Regions from separate parts of the Homo sapiens genome. Here regions 1 and 2 are each reported to be linked to region 3. The links are microRNA targets in miRTarBase. Many come from high-throughput screens and were not tested one by one. Region 3 holds a microRNA gene; each other region holds the end of a gene's coding sequence.

Region 1 (7,223 bases), not on the chromosome of region 3:
ATGAACCTGGGAAACATTATGCTAACTGAAAGAAGCACTGTATGATTCCATTTATAAGAAATATCCAGAACAGGCCGGGCGCGGTGGCTCACGCCTATAATCCCAACACTTTGGGAGGTCGAGAAGAGTGGATCACTTGAGGTCAGGAATTCAAGACCAGCCTGGCCAACATGGTGAAACCCCGTCTCTACTAAAAACACAAAAATTCGCCAGGCATGGCGGTGCGCGCCTATCATTCCAGCTACTCGAGAGGCTGAGGCATGAGAATCACTTGAACCTGGGAGATGGAGGTTGCAGTGAGCTGAGATCACGCCACTCACTCCAGCCTGGGCGACAGAATGAGACTCCGTCTGAAAGAAAAAAAAAGAAAATCCAGAACAGGCAAATCCATGGACAGAGAAAGATCAGTAGCCGCCCGGGACTGGTAGGGTTGGGGAGAAATGGAGAGTGGCTTCTAATGGGTACAGTCTTTTGGGGGTGGGGAGAGAATATGAAAATGTTGTAACATTGATTGTGATGGTTGCACACTCTGTGACTATACTAAAAATCACTGAATGGCACTTTCAGTGGGTGAATTAGATGGTATGTGAATTATATTGCAGTAAAGCTGTTAAATACACACCCACTCACACACACACGCCCGCACACACACGTAACTCTTCTCTGCATCACCTTCAATGGTTCAGCGCACATTCTGTGCTTCGGTCATCATCTATTAAGGCGGGTTCTTCTGTAATCAGGGTATGCAGACTTAATCTGTTATTACATTTCTTCATGCCAGCCCTTATTGGCTTAAAATATATCTTCCACACTCATGTCGATCTTTCAGAATCCTTAGCAAAACGCATGGATAACTCCCTGGTATTTTCACAGGTTGTTGAAGCACTTAGAAGTAAACCACCTAGGCCCCATCTCTCTCTTTCTCTCTCTCCCTCCCTCTCTGGATAACCCAGAAATGTGCACACAAACCTTTCAGCTCTTATTCCACCCCTGCCTTCTGGTGGAGGTGGAGGAGGGCTACTGCATCTCACACTTCAGCCTGGTCTCATTCCTCATCGTCTCACAGGATTCACCCTTGCCACTTCAGTTCCTGGGGTCTCCTGATGGGAAACAGGGGTAGCAAAGGCCAGAAAGAAGCACAGTGGAGGATGGTTTCCTGAACCCTCCCTGAAAACCAAAGTGGCTGAAGGAAACAACAGCAGACCCATGAGAAGCAAGGGGCTTTTGCCTGTGTGCAGTGGCTCGCGCCTGTAATCCCAGCACTTTGGGAGGCCGAGGCAGGTGGATCACTTGAGGTCAGGAGTTCGAGACCAGCCTGGCCAACATGGTGAAACCTCGTCTCACTAAAAATACAAAAATTAGCCAGGCGTGGTAGCACGCACCTGTAATCCCAGCTACTCAGGAGGCTAAGGCAAGAGAATCGCTTGAGTCCGGAGGCAGAGGTTGCAGGTTGCAGTCAGTCAAGATCGCACCACTGTACTCCAGCCTGGGCGACAAAGTGAGACACCTCAAAAAAAAAAAGAAGAAAGGGGCTTTTGAGAAGTACTGCTAAAGGACCACAATTCCCCTCATGGCACATGTAATCTAAGGAATTCAATAGAACTTTGTTATTTGGAAATTATTTTTGTTTTTCAACGGAGCCCTCAGATTAAACCACACGGCTGTTTTGTAATCTCATGTACTGAAAGTTTACACCTTAAACACATCTCTTCTTGACATGATTCCCATAATCTTATATATATGTGGTCCTCAGGAGAAAGCAGCCAGAATTGCCGTGGGCTTTGGCTTAAGAAGACAGAAGGGCAAAGCCACAGGTGGTAAAGTCATGATTGTTGAAAGGTTCTATATGATAAAGTGTTAAATTTCCTCAAAGTCATAGGATTATGGAACTCTCTTCTTCATGCTTACCTGCACTTTCCAAGTTTTATCTGAACAATGAACATCTAGTAGGTAAATCACTAATGAAGCTTCCTTGGTGCTAGGGCCACACTTGAGTGCGACTGAATAGTAGATCCTGGGGAAAAGTATAGTAGAACCAGAGAATAGAATGTCTTACGTCAGAGTATATTGAGGTTTCCAGCAACCTAAGCTTGAATCAGAGTCCCAGCCTCTGTGAGTTGGTCTCAAGGCCCATGGTCCGTGCTCGCTTCCAGCTCCAGCTTCCCGCTTGGGAGAGGCCTTGGTTTCCATGAGCTGAGCCTCTAGATTTTGGAGAAGATTTTCTATGGACAACACAGACCCAATAACAAAAGTACTATGGGAGGAGGCTAGATCTGACTTCTAAACCTGTTCAGTTACCAGAGAGATCAGTAACTCCCTAACTCATAAAGGGAGGGATGGTTAAGCGAACTAGAAATATTTAGACTGAAGACTTAGAAGTGGCCAACTATCTTCAGAATGGTAGAGGGTAAACACCTGGGAGAGCCGTAGGGGACAGCCCAAGGATACCCCTCCGTGAAGTTAGAGGGAGGCAAGTTTCTTGGTTTAGGAAGATTATTCCAACGACCAGAGATGCCCATCTGTGAGTAGACTGCCTCCTGACACCGTCCCACCTTCACCAGAAGCTGGATCTCACTGCTTCAGATGCTCAGAAAGCCCTTCAGTTATCAGGAAAGGGCTGGACCAGGTCATCCTTGCCATCTCTCTACCCTGACCTCCCAATTCCACAGTACAGGGCTCCTTACACCGATTTCAGTTTATTTTTATCAGAGCATGTTCCCTTACAGTCCCCAGGCTAACATGCAGCCCCAAAAAAAGCACTATTTGATTCAGTGAACTGTTGACTGCCAGTCACTGATCCGGAAGTGTCTGTTTCTAGAACTCAGTGTTTAGCCACTGCCACACCATTCAGGGGCTGCTGCCCTCTTGTGGAAATGAAGAATACGACTGCTTAGAAAAGAAATTAGATGCATTTGGAGGCTATTGTCTGTACACACATTCCCATCTTACCTTCCCCTAAAAGCTTAACATTTTAGTGTGAGCCCTAAGCTTAACTTTTTAGTGTGAGCCCTGAAGTTCCTAGGTCCAGACAGTCAGGGCCTTTGGTTTACATTCACGCTACCATTCTGTCCACCAGGATATGGAACTTTAGCCACAATACAAAATCCTGGTTTCTAGCGAGATTGACATTTGTGAAGACCATTTTGATGTGTGGAGTGGCCTTTGGATGTTAACATTGTGCTGTGGGAAGAGCACTAGCCCACGCTTAAAGACCCAGGTTCCAGCTCGTGTTCTGCCATTCCCTTGTGACCCTGGACGAGTCATTTTCCAGTTGCATCTGTGGATAAAGGGCTACATGACCACTGGTACCTGGAACGCTGTAATTTATTGGATTTAGAAAATGCTCTAGGAGTTTAGAGATGAAATTCTGTGGAGAACAGTGGCATATCACATGTGCACTACTTGTAGCTGCTAACCACAGCAAACAGCCACGGGCTTGATTCTAGGTTAGGCACCCTCAGGCTCCTACAAAGGAGACCTAGGCATTGTTCATGTGTGCCTCAGCCTCAGGGATAGCCATGGTCAGATGCTTTGCTTTTCCCTTAAGTAGAAATGTGGCAGACTGTTCAGGGAGGGTCCCACAATTCCTAGCCTTCACACGTGTCTGAAAAACACTTACTAAGTTTTCTGGACGAGTTTTGCCACTAGCTCAGGATACAAAGCTCTGTGACCCATTAGTGACTGGAAGTGATTTCTCATTGTTTCCAAATATCAGTCACCCGCTCCTTGTTACCACTGCAGGGCTTCATATGGAGGAGGGGGCAGCTGGGGACACCACAAGGTTTGCCTGAGTGTGAGGCAGGTGTTCAACCCCAAACTGGAAAAATGGCTTGAAATAAAACTACAGTTGGTAGCTGAGTAAGGAACATGACTGTTTCATTTTAAAAAAACCCACTTCCTTCTTAAGTTTTCCCACAAAGGATAATTTTCCCTCAAGAACTGCCTTGCCAAGTATTTCTTGTTGTAGTCTCTAAATGCTATTTTAAATGTAGTCTGGGGAACTATTTTCCGTTGGCTCCTAATACTGAATTAAGCTAACTTGCCCTTATGATAGTAACAAAAAATTTCAAGAGCAGAGGATGCTTTGTTGACCTCAGACGATTTGTACCCTCACACTTGCTGAAAATAAAACATCTTAGCGAGGTATTTATGACATTAGTCTGAAAACATTTTTTCACTTACATGAAATCTTACACAATGAAGTGGCAGTCAACTGCAAGAATAAATGCCGAATGAGTCATTTTAGTTAGCCTGACCTTTGAGGACACTTGGCTTCGTAGCAGGTCTTTTCATTAGGTCTTATTCTGGTATAAAAAGGCTCCTTCAGAAAATGTTTTCACTAAAAAATAAGTTACAAACTAACAAGAGTGCTATATAACCAACAATTCCTAAGTATTATGTAACAGTAATAAGGCAAATTCATCTTAAAAAAGGTTTACTAGTAACAGTGGCCTGCTATGGACCAGGCACTGTCCTAGTGTTTTACACACAAAAATCTCCAGTCCTTACAACAACCCTAAAAGGCATACAAGCAGACAAGCAGACTCGAATTTGTTGAATGATTAAGCAAGGCCATATAGTACTGGTAGAATCCGAAAGAGAACTCAGGTCTACCCAGTTCTTCTTATGATTAAGCTTTTTCCTCTCCATCTCCTGAAAGCTGCCTTGAACTGGAGTGGGGAGAAATGGGAGGCTCCATGACAGCATGCCCTGTGCTTTCACCAGGTTTCTATATATACAGGACATCCATGTGAGATTTTATGTGAAACAGGTTTTGGCTTGCTTCAAGCTGTATTTCACTATTTAGCACCCTCTTTTGCTCACAGCAGATGGGCTCTAGAGGTCCTGACTAGGCCTGAAATGAGGAACGCTGGGGAGCACCTGTAGGAATGCTCAGCCCTGGATCAAACTACAGCATGCTGTAAGGGACAGTACCAAAAAGAATGACAAGGGCAGTGTGGAAGCCATGTCCCTGCAACACAAGGGCTGGTTCCCAATCCTGGTTATGATGCTCAGAGCTGTGAATTGAAGAGATGTGTGATTACATATTTGCTTGTTGCTTTCCTCGTTAGAAGATAGAGAGTCACTTTAGTTAAGGTCCATTTAATTTAACATTTATTTTCATTTTATATCCAGATGTCACATTTTCTACATTAAAATATAATCATGCTGACTCCCCCAACCCCCAGCCCTCAGAGAAAAAAGTGAAGAACTTTACACAACATGAAAGATGGAATGCACGGGGTAGGGAAGTTGCTATTGCACCCAAGTAACAAAGAACACAGAGAGACCAACAGGACGCATGGCAGAACTGCATAGAAGATCGCTCAGGGCTCACGTCAGGAAGGCGCAGGAATTCAGAAAACTCTAAAGCTTGGAAATGCTATCGTTTGTGCCACAAAGATTACCCTGAAAAGGTAGAGAGAGGTCAAAAAGCAGAACCAAATTGGGGATTTTCAAAGGCTGCTCTCTAACAGAGTTTAAAATATCCGTAAACATAAGTGCTTCTGCTCCCTCCCCTTGCCTTCAGCATCTGGTAAACACTTTAGAAACTTAAACCACTGTTAGCATGTCAGAATGTAGAAAGGCTGTAGGTTTTTCTTTCTTCTCATCTTGTACCCCAAACAACAACTCTACTGGCAATTGTAATCATGTGACTCCTCTGCTTGGAAACCCAGTAAGGATCACCAAGACAAGGGGTCTCACTGCTACCAGACAGATACCAGCTGTGCAAAAAGTTGCAGGATTCTGTGTATTATTTGGAGAGGGAGAGCTGTAAGACACAGGAATCCCAATACGTAAGTACTAAAGAGAAAAAGAAAACTCCTTTCACTCATCTATTCATTATATAGGAAAGAGCAAAAAGACAGTCAAAACCATCTGCTTCGAGCAGCAGCACAGCCCAGCAATACAGGCATACCAACAAACCGAAAGCAAACACTCAGGAAAGAGCCTCTTGGCCCTTCTCAAAGGAGACTTCTCTCAGACTGGATCTTGCCCCTAATGTAGAGACCAAAGCATTATAACTTCAGAGACTGGTACTCTTGAGGGAGTTGAGAGGTAAGGTCTAAGAGACCCAAATAACAAGACTGTTATCAGGTAACTAACTACTCCACTATGTACAATACATACAGCAATAAGAAAACGCCACTCCATCCCTGCAGCACTTTAAACATAGCACTGAGGACCCAGGTAGGGGGATATTTTAAGGTCTGTTAGCAGTTTAAAACGTTGCAACACTGGCACAATATGTTACCTATTCTTTGTTTTTAATTACAGGGTAACATGGTAAACTCCAACACAAAGGTGGGAACCGAGAGTGCAAAAGGAATAAAGAAAACAGAACCAGTATTTCACAAGAGCGCGGAGCAATGCAGAAGCAGCAGCTAATGCTTTGCAGAGTCTCGAGGGTAAAATTCGCTGAGGGTGCTCTGAGGGATTCTCTTCAGCATTTCTTTGGGGAAGATTCGGAGTAGCTGCCAGCCAATGTCCAAAGTCTCAAAGACAGTGCGATTTTCGTAAGGACCTTAAAAAATTGAGATTGAATTAATAAATGCAAATGACTTCCAACTTAGCAGTGTTATCCAGTATGTATTGTTATATGACTAGCAGTGTATTAAATAGATATTGAAAAAAAAAAGTTGGGACTCCCAAGACTAAATGAGAAGGACTGAGGAAAAGAAGGCACAGACAGTGAGTATCATAAGGAACCAGAGAAGAGGGAAGAGGCGGCTGGGCTGAGACAGGGAGCAGTCTTGCGGGAGAGGATGGTGAGACAGATCTGAGATTTGACAACTGGGTAGGATACTTGAGCAATGGAAACTAGAATCAATGTTTTGTCCAGAGATTAGTAAGAAAAGTCTCCCTAGCACAGAAGGTTCACACAAAGAGAAAAGGCTGAATTTGAAGGCGACTAACACAGATGCTCAGAAGGACATAAATGCCAGTCAAGCACCTGAATACATGCAACCCTCTCCAGAGTATCACTATCTGAAGGTCAGTGGTTTCCCAAGTTGTTAAAATTATTTTTGATGGCAGAATCATCCTTATCCCCACAAATAAATCTTATTCTTTGAGTCCAAGGCTGGAGGTCTGGGTTCTTTTCTCTAGAGGAAAACTTTATTTTGTTTAAGATATTCAGGTTCTGCATTAAAAAAATTCCAATAATCATGAATATTTTGGGGATTTGAATATTAATAATGTATCATATAACTGGAAAGGTG
Region 2 (7,276 bases), not on the chromosome of region 3:
AATACATTTGCAGATCACTCCAATCTTCATCCCTACTGCCATCATCCTCCTAGTTCAGTCTCTATTTCTGAGACTATTGCATTAGTGTCCTCTTCTTGACATCCTTGTCTTTCCCCTATGTAGCAGAGTGATCGTTCATCAATCCCTTGAGCCCTTCAACTGCCTATACATTAAAATGATCAAATTATATTACTACATTACTAAAGTTATCAAAATTGCATACTTATCTCTCCTTTCTATGGCTTCATCTTTTGACATTGTACTACACGCACGCCAGCTCCTCTACTCACTATGCTGCTCCCACTTTCAGAATTCCATCCCCCATCTCCCCACTTAACCCAGCATTCTGATTCTCTCTCTCTAATGTGTCTACACAAAACCTAAGTATAGATTTCTTTAAATAAGCTTCCACAAAATAAGCTAAGTGATTTTGTTTACATTTCATTTCACACTTGTTTCAGAAACCCATGGCTTTGTCTATGGCTATGACTATGTCTTCTGACTTCAAAGTTAATACTCTTTTTCACTAACCTAAGTTTTAGTCTTCTACATCAAGCCAGGTGATGTAGAAATAATTAAAACACAATAAAATATCACATTTTCCCTTTTCTACCTAATAGGATGGTAGGCATCACAAAATCTGAGAACACAAAACGTGGATCTTTTGAAAAGGTATAGAAAAAAAAATCAGTAAAATTTAGTCATTAAGTAGCCTACATTCAGATCTTAACAGGAGACTGAATAAGAACTTCCCAAGGTTAAATCTTCCTTATGGGAGATAAGAACCCAGTTTTGCTTTTGACTCTAGCAATAAGTAGGTATGCAGCTTGGTGATATCAATTCACCTCTTTGAGCCTTAATTTCACCTTCTTAAACCTGTAGTCATTCCATAGATTCCCAAGATAGGCCAAAGACGGAAATGGGATGGGGATGTCCATGAACCCCTTGAAATTTTATGCACAATTCTGAATATGAACTTATTCTATTTTCTAAGGAGAGAGATTTCTCGGCTTTCATTATATTCTCAAAGGGGTTAGTAAATTCCAAAGTGATTAAAAACTTCAGATTATTTGCCATCTCTCATATGACTGTATAAATATTTTTAAAACTATGGAATTGGAGATCCATTATTGGTTTAAATTTTATAACAAACTTAGACCATAATAACCTTTTTCTGTTCTTTGCTCCAGGATTTAAATCTAGTAAGGTTAAGGCTAAATTACAATTCTAGGCATGTTATAATCAAGAAAAGCTTACTCTGGTATTTCTTAGCAGAAGAAAGGTCAATGTAAAGGGTTTGATAAAGCAACACTAACTTTTCATTTTAAGTTCTATGTGATTGAGATTTAAACAATGACTGAAAAAAGTCACAAAAGGGCAAAATTCCATTCAACAAAAACTGTAACACCCTGAAAGCTGTATCATTAAAAAAATCATAGCCTGCAGTCAACTTATTTCAAGCAGTATGTATTACAAAATTACTGACCAACAAAAGGAACTCTGATTATAGGGCATCCTCTGGCATCTAGTTCAGCTTCCATTTCCTTACTTTAAATCTCTATCTCCAACTGCCTGCTTGGTTATTTGCCAACTCCAAATCAAAGGATTAATCAATGCTTATCACCATCTTCCTGAAAAGTGGACCTATCTCCGTACTTCATTACCTCTGTAGTGGTACTCTGTTCTAGTTATACAGGCTCAAGCTACTTATGAATTTGAAAGAGATCCAATATCTCTCAAGCCTACAATAACTTCAGGTAAGAAAACTGATTAAAAATCAGAAAACAACTAGACTCTCCATTTAGAATCAACTACTTATTTATTTTTTTTTTGAGACGGAGTTTCGCTGTGTCGCCAGGCTGGAATGCAATGGCGAAATCTCGGCTCACTGCAACCTCCGCCTCCTGGGTTCAAGTGATTCTCCTGCCTCAGCCTCCCAAGTAGCTGGGACTACAGGTGCGTGCCACCACGCCCAGCTAATTTTTGTATTTTTAGTAGAGAGAGGGTTTCACCATGTTGGCCAGGCTGGTCTTGAACTCCTGACCTCTTGATCCGCCCGCCTTGGCCTCCCAAAATGCTGGGATTACAGGCATGAGCCACCGCGCCCAGCCCCTAGAATCTACTTAAGAACCCAAGGAAAAATACTTGTGTTTTCAATATAAGAAATTTGCAAGGAATAAAAAGACATGAGAAAGCCTACAGAAAGGACCTAAAAAATATGACATTTATGAGAAAATAAAAAATTTAAACACTTACTGGATATTTGATATCAAGGAAGAATATTTAAAGATAACCTATTTATGGGGCTGGGCACGGTGGCTCACGCCTGTAATCCCAGCACTTTGGGAGGCTGACGTGGGTAGATCGTGAGGTCAGGAGATTGAGACCATCCTGGCTAACATGGTGAAACCCCGTCTCTACTAAAAATACAAAAAATTAGCCGGGCATGGTGGCGGGCGCCTGTAGTCCCAGCTACTCGGGAGGCTGAGGCAGAATGGTGTGAACATGGGAGGCGGAGCTTGCAGTGAGCTGAGATGGGGCCACTGCACTCCAGCCTGGACGACAGAGCAAGACTCCGTCTCAAAAAAAAAAAAAAAAAAAAAAAAAGATAACCTATTTATGGATAAAATAAAATGATGCCTGAGACTTGTTTCAGAAAGAGTGGAAAGGGGTGCATGGAGTACAGCTCAAATAAATTTGGTCAGAAATTCAGAATGACTGAAACAGAGGAATGGGTAAATGGAGATTCTCTTAAAGTAAAAATAATTTACAAAATTCTTATAAGAAAAATAATTGTGTACACCGTACCACTCTCAGCAGTGAAGCCATATACAATTGGGGTCTTAAAAACGAAGGGTGGCTTGGTACTCACATCATCATGCAAAACACACAGGAACTTTATGACCACTTAGTCAACAGAGTACCAAACTGAATTTGTTTGGTCAGTGACTTTCTATTACACTAAATTTGCATGTAATTGTTTCTCGGCTAGCACCAATAGGACAGACTGTATTTCAGAAAAAAATTCAAGTGAAAAATTAGTAAAATCATTTTGTAACAAATGCTGCCTATGACAAACATTAGCTATAGGACTAAACAAACTTTGGTTTTAAAATGAGCAAGGCAAACAGCAAAAGGTTCAAACACGTAGGATTTTTATGGGGCAAAAATTACTATCAAGTGTTTCAAATTACATTATTTCAAGTGGGTAATCTGATGAGTTTTATATTTGCAAAAGTAATCTTATTCCAATTATCCATATCCACAGTTCTGAAGATGCAGACCACCTGGACACAGGTAGTGACAAGGATGAATTTTTCTGTGCAACTAAAAGTGGTGGGTAGGGGAGGGAGAACCACATACTTCCCTGGTTAATTTATTTCTAAATAAAAATACGGTAAATTTGCTTGCTGATCATGAAATCTGTATTGAACAAACATCAGTTTGACTTACCTGTTTTCATGAGACAGACTATGGTCATAAAAATCACCTGTGTGCTTCAGTTACCTGAATAATTCAAATACTCAACCTATCAACAGAGTAAGCTATATATTTCTCTCAAAAAACTCAGCATTTCTTCCATTAGAGATTACTACATCTAGAAAATTCTAGAGATCACTGAATTTTCTGCCATGTGTATTTTGGTATGAACATATTTTTAAAACTAGCCATTCTTTCTTAATAAACAATTTCAATAAGGCTAAAATTTCATATTAATGTACTTAAAAAGTGAAGAGATACTTGAAAATTTTTATATCAAATATAACCTATCTTTTCAAGTCAATATAACAAGATTAATCTATGGTAATTAATCAACACACTATAGAGTAAGACTGAACTTTCTAAATACTTAATAGAACTTTGTGAATCCCCAATATACTTAAAGTTTGATTTTGTATATTTGACTGCCAAAGCTTTAATAGTGTTAAGACCTAACAATTCATCTTGAAGAATCTTCAACTTTCTGAAAATTTTGGTTTGTATATTTAAGAGTTAAGGCTTATATTAACATTTGGCTTCTATTAACAGATAAAATAGGAGCTTAGAATATATACAAAATTTCAAAACTGATTCCTAAAATTCCTAAATTTCTTTTTCTTTTTTGAGATGGAGTTTCGCTCTTGTTGCCCAGGCTGGAGTGCTATGGCGTGATCTCGGCTCACCGCAACCTCCGCCTCCTGGGTTCAAGCGATTCTCCTGCCTCAGCCTCTCGAGTAGCTGGGATTACAGGTATGCACCACCACGCCCGGCTAATTTTGTATTTTTAGTAGAGACGGGGTTTCCCCATGTTGGTCAGGCTGGTCTTGAACTCCTGACTTCAGGTGATCTGCCCGCCTCGGCCTCCCAAAGTGCTGGGATTACAGGTGTGAGCCACCGTGCCCTGCCTAAAATTCCTAAATTTCTAATGAGTGGCAAACACAGAATTCCATCTATGGCCAACTGAGGCAACAGAAGACTTACTACTGTGTACCTACTTCCTAAAAATTACTCTGAACAGGATTCCCAAGTATGTATACTACAAGGATCCTTTAGGAACTGGTTTACTTCAATAAGGATCATCTCTCTTAATGTCTGATGTTCAATTAGCTTAGAGTAGTGAGACACAATTACTTCAATTCCAGATTTAAATCCCTATCATGACATTAGTAAATTACCAAATCCTTCTAAGCCTGCTATCCTCATCTACAAAATGAGGATAAAATATATAACGAGAGTTTTTGTGAGAATTAAATGACAGCATGCATCACTGTCACGTAAATAGAATTCAAAACTGGCTTTTTACTCACATTTACATTCTTAGTACTCTCTCTGGGCTGGATTTTATTCTTATATTTTCTCTAACCAGTACCCTTTTTGATATATTATTCTCAGAAGTGACCTCAAATCCTTTGTTGATATACATAAACTCCAAGAAGAACCAACCAACCAACCAACCAACCCAATCTAGTTTTGTTCCAGAGTTCACAGTATAAGGAAAAGAGAAACATGTAAGTAAGGGGAACAAAACGAAGAGTGAGAAAACATTTCCGTGAAGAAAGCATTTGAAAGAATTCCACATAGGAAATAGATCCTGAAAAGTTATTTTCATAGTGGTTTAATAGGTGTCACAAAAAGGTATTTTGTGGCAATGTCATTCTTCCTCAAAAATTGAATACCTTCATTTATTTGCCAATTTCATAAAACAGCATTCTGGAGGTCAATTTTTTCAAAGTGATTTAAAAATAAGTAAAACATTTTTAAAAAGAATTAAACTTGAAACAGACCTCATCCACTGTAAATTTTAGGCATTACTATTCCTGAGTGTCAACTATACATATCAAATGATTAAACACCTCCCTCCTGATTTAGTCAAGATATCTGCAGTAAGTAATGTGTAAATGACAACTGTTCCCAAGACTTATGATAAAAGCTTTTAGCATAGATTAGAAAATGAATAAACATCTCAACAAGTAAAATTACTCTTTTCAGCATTAAAAAATAATTTGTGAAAAATGTAGTGAGTGTAATTATGAAGTGTCATATTCATCTCAACTCTAGTTCTAAAATAACCGGACATCATTTTAACCAAGAGAAATGCTGGTTTTCCAAATAACAGGTTACCTTTACCCGAGGTTTAAAGAATAAATATCAGCATCATGACATCACTAGAAAGAAATTGAAGCATACAAGGAATAAACTATAGTTTCTTTTTATATCAAAATGTACTCTTGAAAATGTGTTTGGCACAGTGCTAAATCATATATAGTTAATACTAAATATTGCAGGATACAATAAAACCCTGGAGTTAATTGTTTACACCCTCTTATGGGAATGAAAATAATAGATACCAATTATTCAGAAGTCAGCCTATACAAACTGTATAAACAATATTTTATGTTTTGCTTTGAAAACCAGTGATATAATAAATTTTACATAAAAGACTGTAAAATAATATAAATGGATTTAAACAGATTTTTACAATAAGAAATTCAAATGGAAACAGACAAGTAACAAAGAGAAGTAAAAAAATTTATTGCAGTATTCGCTCCACCAGATTACCTGGGGATCCCTTTTCTTGTATTGTTTTCAGGGTGACCTAATACATCAAAATCTACATTTACAAAAACTCCTTCTGCAGATAGGTCATAGATACTGCATGCTTTTTTTTTTTTCAACAGAATAAATTATATATCCAGGAGATTCTGCCATTTTACAGCCTGGAAAAAACAATGCTTCCCTGGAAACTGGGCTAAGCTAAAGAAAGCCATCCGCTGCTAGGTTAAACTCCAAGAACACTTTATTAAGAACATTAACAGACTAATTTCCAACATTCACTTGTTTATTTTTTTTAAACAGAAAGTTTTTTTTCCAAGATATAAACAATTTTTGTTAAACTATAATACAGTGGGAGTAAAAATGAACTGAGAATCTGTTTCTGCTGCACAACAGCGAAGGGAGCTCCCACAAAAATGTTTGCCCAACATTTCCTTCTTTTGTTCCTGCATCCCAGGTTCCACTTACTCTTCATAAAACTGATTTTTTTTTGCCAGAATGTTGGTATTTCAAGTTTTTCTGCCTTTTAAAAAAATTCCTGTAAATTTGGCTGCATGTACAAATTCATTAGCTGGAAGTCCCATCCTTGGCGGCATACAGGGATCGTAAAGTCTGAACAACTTTATTAGTCAGCTTATTAGCACTCGTTAGAGCAATTTTTTTGTAAATAATGTCTGACTCTTTAATAGTGTCTACCCAAGGCACCAGTTTGCGGCCATCACGGCGCTTAGCCTCAGTCCAGGAGCCACTGTAGGAGCCTGCCATCCACTGAACACTGAAGCCACTGCTGGTTTTCTGCACTACTCTTGCAATTTGTGGTCGATCTTTGTACTTTGGACAGCAAATAGCGATGACATCCATGACGTCAACACTTTCATTCATCTGTGCTGCCAACTCCGTAGAGTCTGAATTTCGTTTTGACCTTCTCAATGACTAAAACATTGGGAGGGGGGAAAAAAGACCAAGTGTTACACAAAAGAATTTTAGTGAAATTATTGTTTTTATTGCTTTTAATCCCTTGACGCCGGGAGTTGGGATTTCCCGGCACACTTCCATTGCCGGCAATGAGACGCACCGTGACCGCCAGCGCCAAGGGGTTAACATATACTTGTAAAACCATATAACTCTTAATTTGTACCCGTGTCTTTACTCTTATTGATATATAAAATTATATATACATATGAACCATATAGCTACATAAAACTTAGCAACAATAAAAATAACACACATTAATACAATTCAA
Region 3 (7,276 bases):
ATCACACGGTTGCACTCCAGCCTGGGTGACAGAGCAAGACCTCGTCTCTAAAAAAATAAAAGTAAGGACAGTGCTGATTCATGGGAAATATTTTGGCTTATAAAGGGCCTGACGTTAGGGACAAGTGTGTCTGTGAGTTCCTAGTTTGCATAACCTGGCCTTGTAGAATTGAAATGGTCTCAAATGTAGTATAGTTTAGTGATGCAGTACTGTCTCTAATTTGGGGCAAGTTATTAAGCTTCTTACCACCAGTTTTCATCTAGAGATGATGAAGTAGTTGGACCTTACATATTTTGGATATATGGTATTAATAAATCTTTCCCTTTTTGTTACAGACGTGTTGATACTGCAGCTAGGAAAGCTGAGGGACTTCGGCTAAATTTCTTTTGCAAGATTTCAATGGCAGAGAATTAGTAGGGCCAGGATTTGAACCCTGGTTTTTATTGACTCCAAATGAGTAATGCTGTGAACATTCAAATACACGTTTTTTCAATTCTCTTGCCCTTTTTTTTTGCGGGGAGGGGCAGGGTCTCACTCTCTTGCTCTGACTGGAGTGCAGTGGTGTGGTCATAGCTTACTGCAACCTTTAACTCCTAGGCTCAAGCAATCTTCCTGCCTCAACCTCCTGAGTAACTCAGCTGGGACCATAAGCCTGCACCACCACACCCAGCCATGTTCAGTTCTCTAGAGTATATACCTAGAAATGGAATTGCTGGGTCATATGGTGAACTGTTTTTTACTCATCACTAACCAGTTCTGACACCAACAATCAATTCTTCAACTCGACACCAACAGAGTGTCCTACAATTAAATTTAATTCTGAAACTACCTGAAGTTAGTACAAACTTCACAGGTTGAGGGCTCAAACACGTAAGACTGCCCCCGCTTCAGATGCAGGTTTCTACCTGAATTTTTAACCAACCAGCTATAAATTAGGGGGTTTCACAACCTCTTCCACTGGGTCTATAATTTGCTAGGATGGCTTACAGAACACAGGAAGACACTCATTATCACTGGTTTATTATAAAGGATTTAAATGAATAGCCAGATGAAGAGGTCCTTAAGCTGAAGTCCAGGAGGGTTCCTAGCACAGGAGCTTCTGTATCTATGGAGTTAGGGTTACACCAGCCTCCTGGCATGAAGATGTGTTTTTCAACTCAGAGCTGTCCAAACCCTGACACTTAAGGGGTTTTTATGGAGGTTTCATACTTAGGCATGATTGATTACATTATTGGCCTTTGATGATTGGCTTACTCTCTGTCCTCTCTGCTTTACCTGGAGGTTGAGGGGGTGAGGCTGAAAGTTCCACCCCTCTAATCACACCTTGGTCTTTCTGGTGACTATCCCCCTCCTGAAACTACAGGAGCCACCAATCGACTCAGTAGCATTAAACAGACATTCATCACTTAGGAAATTCTGAGGGTTTTAGGAGCTGTATGCCAGCCAGGATCTTCAAATGGAGACAAAGACGAAATACGTGTTTCTGATTCCACTTAACAACTGTTTGACTTGTCTACAAGTTTTGTTCTCCAAAGCAGCTGCACCATTTCACATTCCCACCAGCAATCTAAGGGTTCCAATTTTCTCCGCATCCTTGTCAACACTTTTATTAATCTTATTAGCCATCCTAATGAATAATGTATCTTTTCATGTGCCTGTTGGCCATTTGTGCTTATGAGTCATATCTTTGGTGAAATATCTATTAAAATATTTTACCATTAAATTAGGTTGTTTTAAGTTACTTTAATGTGTGTTTTGCACACCAGTTTACAAAGAATGCAGATCCATTTTTTTTGCATGTGGCTATACAGCCGTCAGCATTATTTGTTGAAAAAACGATTCCCAGTTGAATTGTCTTGTCATGGTTGAAAATCAGTTGACCCATGTATGGGTTTATTTCTAGACTTTAAATTCTATTATATTGAGCCGTATGTTTTTTATTACGTTTTGTAATTTTAAAAATTAGTGCTTTTGGTTACTAAATCACTACAAAATAAATTTAGTCCCTATCTTAAAAGATAATCTTCGTAGTAGCTACCTCCTAAATATGAAGTCTGTAAATTAAAGGGTAATAATACAGTTTAGATTACTTGGGTTTATTAAAGATTTTGGACTCTGCCTTCAATCCACATATTACCTTTCTATCTAAAGGAAAGGATCCTGACCCTGAATCAGATCCAGGTGATTATCTTTGATTTAGTCCTAATAAGACCACTTAGTGTTTGCTCGCATGGGATAAATGAGTAGGTTCCTTTAAAAATTAGTTTCTATTTGTGTGTGTTTTTTATATTATCTCGTTGTATGTTAGTGCATTTGGATTATGCATGATGTACAGGACTTTTGGGTTTTGAAGTCATTGGATTTTTAATTAGAGGCTGTCATGTTTTTCTGTAATGATTTTTTGTTGTTTCTTGAAGGATAAGTTATTTCATGCATTTTCATTTGTAGGAACTGTAAGAAAACCAGCAGTTAATAATAGTAAAAGGTGGTGGTAAGAGGGTGATTTCTGAATCTTGTAAATACATGGTTTTAGGAGCGGATTCAGATAACCAAGCATTTAAAATACTATTAATGAAATACAGGAAATGAAACCACAGCATAGATTATGCATGTAGCCAAAATGTTCAGTTAAACTTCATTTTCAACGTAAGTGAATGAAAATGGTCTAATACTATTTTTCTTATCACTCACACAGGAAACCAGGATTACCGAGGAGGAAAAAAAGCCTTCCTGTGGTGCTCAACTGTGATTCCTTTTCACCATTCACCCTGGATGTTCTCTTCACTGTGGGATGAGGTAGTAGGTTGTATAGTTTTAGGGTCACACCCACCACTGGGAGATAACTATACAATCTACTGTCTTTCCTAACGTGATAGAAAAGTCTGCATCCAGGCGGTCTGATAGAAAGTCAGTTAACTAATTGTACAATATTTAAGATTAACTTGTCTTAAAGAGATGTAGTGCAGCATTTGTTTATGGCCTGGAAATAAATTAATTTAGAGATAAAGTCTGTAGCAAGTACACTGGATGGGGGTGGGGAAACCTTTTGCTTCTTGTCTTATTTCTCTGTGTCAGAATAAATGTATTTTTTTATTTTGATTTATGCTGATAATTTTATGTTGAAATTTTCTTTCGAAAGAGATTGTACTTTCCATTCCAGAAGAAAACATTGCTCTATCAGAGTGAGGTAGTAGATTGTATAGTTGTGGGGTAGTGATTTTACCCTGTTCAGGAGATAACTATACAATCTATTGCCTTCCCTGAGGAGTAGACTTGCTGCATTATTTTCTTTTTATTTAGATGATATTAAAACTCAGAAGAATTAATTTTGACATTTTGTATTTACAGTTTATCAGTTAATTTTCTCTGTTCAAGTAGTACAGTAGGCACAGATTAACATTTAAATTTTTCACATATGGTATATTTCAGAAATTTGAAGTTAAGCAAAAATTTTAATGAGTAGAGAAAGTAAGTAGCCTTCAGGAAATCTTCATAGAGGACCAGGCCCTTTTGGAATTGTGAATAGGTTTATTGCCTTACATCCTGGTACACATGTCCAAGGTCAGGTCCTGGGTGGTAAAGGTAAATACAAATTGGAAGGGCACTGTGTGAGCCAAAATGAGTCAGATTAGTCATGATTCATTTCCAGTTTGGGTTTTGGGTGGTCTTGGAGAATGTTGTAAGCACTGCTTCATTGATAGGTTGATTGAGCCAGACTTTACTCAGCAGCCTGGAAAAGGAGAGATGGGCTCTGGGTTCTACCTTTGCTCACTGGTAAGTTGCTAAGATTTCAGCTTTGCCCTCAAACCCTGAAGTAGTCCTTCATTCACACAGTGGGATCACTCGAAAATGTCAGATGGGGAAGTCCATAGGTTGTTACTTTAAAGAAAATAGAAAAAATGCTGGAAAAGGTTTCTTCAATTTTAATACCCATGAAGGCCCATGTTTTAGCTTTCCTCCGATGGGCAAACCATACACTAACTTGGGCCTTGTAATCAACAAGCAAGGCTAAAAGCTCTCTAAGTGCTTGCTGTTTAAACTATTTTGTGTTGGAAGAAGAGTTGGAAAAGAGGCAGTGTGGAGGTGAGGGAGAAGTTCCCTCCCTCCAATCATTTCCAATAAATGGAAATTTAAGGAGAAATTTGTGTTTATCCTTAATATCTAAGATAATCACTGTGCAGTGCCATTGGTACTTTTCATGAGAGTAGAAACATCAAACTTCCTTGGATGGGCCCAACCCAGGTGACTTAACTCTGGACCAAATGTATGCTTTTTGTTTTATCCACTGTGGACAGCTGCATAGATAATTGGTCTTTGTTCTAAACTGCACATAAAAACATGGGAGAAAATGACATTTGTTGCCTTTTGATGTGCCAAAGAAGAGTGGGAATGTTCTAAGAATTCTTTTTGGCTTAATCTTTGTTGAATTGAAAATATGTATAACTCTTCTGCTGAAAGTGTAGCAAGTACAGTCATGAAATTTTGTGGTCTTCCTGACATGTTCTTCCAGCATAACGTTGCCACCTTCAGTTGGAAACGTATCCTTATCTAATAATTAAGCCCTGGAGAAAAATTAATTTATATATTTTATTAATTACATAAGGACATTGTTATTAGCTAAGCAGAGTAAGTAAATCGAAATAAAACTTTAAAAATGCCTTTATGGAGAGAATGACTATCTCTGAAAGCTTGTTTTTAATGATGATAAAATTCATGATCAGAATTTGTTTCTGTTTGCTTTAATTCAGGGGTCAAAAACTGAAATACCATCAGAGGCCCAGGAGGGGCTAGTTGTAACTGGCAAATATAGTAAATTAATTTGCTCTGGTTGATAGGTAGCAAGCAGGGTTTATATACATTGTCACCTACTTTTCCAGTTAACAGGAGAGACTGGAGATTTTATGAAATTTGATATTTAAATGTTGGTAACTGGGTTGGGCACCATGGCTCACACCTCTAATCCCAGCACTTCGGGAGGCTGAGGCGGGTGGAGCACCTGAGGTCAGGAGTTAAAGACCATCCTGACCAGCCTGGTGAAACACAGTCTCTAATAAAGATACAAAAATTAGGCCGGGTGTGGTGGCTCATGCCGGTAATCCCAGCACTTTGGGGAGGCCAAGGTGGGCGGATCACCTGAGTCAGGAGTTTGAGACCAGCCTGCCTAAATGGTGAAAACCTGTTTCTACTAAAAATACAAAAAAGTAGCTGGGCGTGGTGGTGGGCGCCTGTAATCCCAGCTACTCTGGGGGCTGAGGCAGGAGAATCACTTAAACCCAGGAGGCAGAGGTTGCAGTGAGCCGAGATCACACCACTGTACTCCAGCCTGGGTGACAGAGCGAGACTGTCCAAAAAAAAAATTGATAATTAAATGTTAAAAGTCAGCGACTCCAGTAATACGTGGTGGGCTGAGTATTAGACTACTGGCTTACATCCTCTGATGTCATTACTTTCTTGTTCGTTTGTGACTTGAGGTTGGATTTTAAGCAAATGTATTTGTGGCTTTTTACCAAGGTCATATGGCCAGATAACTTTTCAAAAGCATTAGTTAAAGAATTCTGATTAGTTTGAATTAGAAACAAAACTCAAAGAACATGACCTAATTTAACAGGTTAATTTGAAGTGCATCTGCCAAGTAGAAGACCAGCAAGAAAAAAAAAATGGGTTCCTAGGAAGAGGTAGTAGGTTGCATAGTTTTAGGGCAGGGATTTTGCCCACAAGGAGGTAACTATACGACCTGCTGCCTTTCTTAGGGCCTTATTATTCACCGATAACCTGTTTCCTTGCTACTTTGCTTTGGTGTAAGCAGAGTTCTTTCTGTAGGTTTTTTCAAATGAAAACATTGCAAGAATATCAAAGAGAGCAGTGTTTGCGTTAGTGATTATAAACTGCAGCATGGTGCTGACATTGATAACTGAAAGTCAACTAATGAGAATTTGAGACTTCTGAAGTACACTTAGTTGCTAGTGTCTCCCTTTTGGTGTCACTGGAAAGTTTAGAAAGCATGGTTTTGTTTTTGCTCAGGTTTCTCTTTCTGTGATGCAGAGACTCTCAGCTGTTCCTCCTCTATGTCTACATTATGTCTGAAGGAAAGAATTTAACAAAACTTGAAATACTGCTGTTTTTCTACAATGTTTGTAAATATTTATCTTGCTGCTTTTCTAGGTTTGTCTTCTGGATTTAAAATTTGGGGCGGCTGGGGTGGAATTGCATGGTTTGGGAATGGGTAATTGAGCTGCTGCTCATTATGGTATGTAACAGTGATTTGTCTGTTTAATATGTACAAGAACTGGAAGGTCAATAAAATGAAAGTGGTTGTCTTGACTGGGTAATAGTGTTACATATTTTGTTAAAAGTTATACATCTTTTCAATAAAAACACTGCATACTTCAAAACTAGTGCTTTTTAAGTCATCCTTAACCCTTATCCCCATCCTTGCAGTAGTAGATGCATTTTTCATTTGTAATTATTATGATTTGTTCTTAGTTTCATTTTTCATTAGCAATAATTTGGTGATTGGATGGTCATTTACAGATGTTTTAATAAAGCTAACACGAGCAATTTCCAGCTCTTCCATTTTTGTAAACACTTGTGTGACTTTGTACAGACAATTAACTGCTCAGGATCACCCTCCTTTTTGTTTTGTTTTTGAGATGGTCTCATTCCGTCACCCATGCTGGAGTGTAGTGAAATGATCACAGCTCACTGCAGCCTTGACCTCCCGGACTCAAGCTTCCTAGTAACTGGGACTACAGGTGCATACAACCATGCCTGGCTAATTTTATTTTTGTAGAGACGGTTTCACCATATTGCCCAGACTGGTCTTGAACTCCTGATTATCCTCTGGCTTTTACCTCCCAAAGTGCTGGCCAGGACAGCCTCCTTTCTTTACTTGAGTAATTATTTGAGTTTGCTCAGGCAGACACTACCTTGTAAAAACTCTTATGTCTCATTTCACTAGTCTAGTTTGAGCATTTATCATTCTAGGAATGAGACGAATTTGTGCATTAGCATTCCATCTTTTTCCAACTACTATGAACAGTAGTATTTTTTTTTATTTTATTTTATTTTTTGAGACAAAATCTCACTGTTTCCCAGGCTAGAGTGCAGTGGTGTGATCTCAGCTCACTGCTGCAACCTCCACCTCCTGGGTAGAGTAGACAGGATTTAGGTAATTTTTTGTATTTTTATTAGAGACAGGGTTTCACTATGTTGGCCAGGCTGGTCTTGAACTCCTGGCCTCAAGTGATCCACCGGCCGTGGCCTTCCAGAGTGCTGG

The links. The annotated mature microRNA hsa-let-7a-5p reads UGAGGUAGUAGGUUGUAUAGUU and lies in region 3 at 2,793-2,814, shown strand. An mRNA with a match to its seed (bases 2 to 7 or 8) in the 3' UTR can be bound and repressed. Matches are read on the target gene's strand: a 7mer-m8 pairs with bases 2 to 8, a 7mer-A1 pairs with bases 2 to 7 and ends in A, and an 8mer does both.
Region 1: miRTarBase lists ATP6V1B2 as a target of hsa-let-7a-5p. The part of its 3' UTR that is shown has no 7-base or 8-base seed match.
Region 2: the mRNA of NIPBL is a reported target of hsa-let-7a-5p. The part of its 3' UTR that is shown has no 7-base or 8-base seed match.

The regions. Positions count from the first base shown.
Region 1 is chr8:20,219,566-20,226,788 of GRCh38, reverse strand. ATP6V1B2 (ATPase H+ transporting V1 subunit B2) reads right to left here. Exons shown (of 14, transcript NM_001693.4): 14 at 5,093-6,526. The coding sequence ends at 6,387. Among named protein-coding and RNA genes, the nearest start is that of ATP6V1B2, 26 kb to the right of the region's middle. RefSeq lists an enhancer at 2,536-2,635.
Region 2 is chr5:37,064,217-37,071,492 of GRCh38, reverse strand. It overlaps NIPBL (NIPBL cohesin loading factor), which reads right to left. Exons shown (of 47, transcript NM_133433.4): 47 at 5,080-6,966. The coding sequence ends at 6,601. Among named protein-coding and RNA genes, the nearest start is that of CPLANE1-AS1, 180 kb to the left of the region's middle.
Region 3 is chr9:94,173,170-94,180,445 of GRCh38, forward strand. MIRLET7A1 (microRNA let-7a-1) reads left to right here and starts at 2,788; the gene lies at 2,788-2,867. MIRLET7A1HG (miRlet-7a-1/let-7f-1/let-7d cluster host gene) reads left to right here. Exons shown (of 5, transcript NR_170278.1): 2 at 2,696-2,796; 3 at 6,651-6,752. It overlaps MIRLET7F1 (microRNA let-7f-1), which reads left to right and starts at 3,178; the gene lies at 3,178-3,264. It overlaps LINC02603 (long intergenic non-protein coding RNA 2603), which reads right to left. Exons shown (of 3, transcript NR_160773.1): 3 at 3,400-4,562. It also overlaps MIRLET7D. RefSeq lists an enhancer at 6,076-6,125.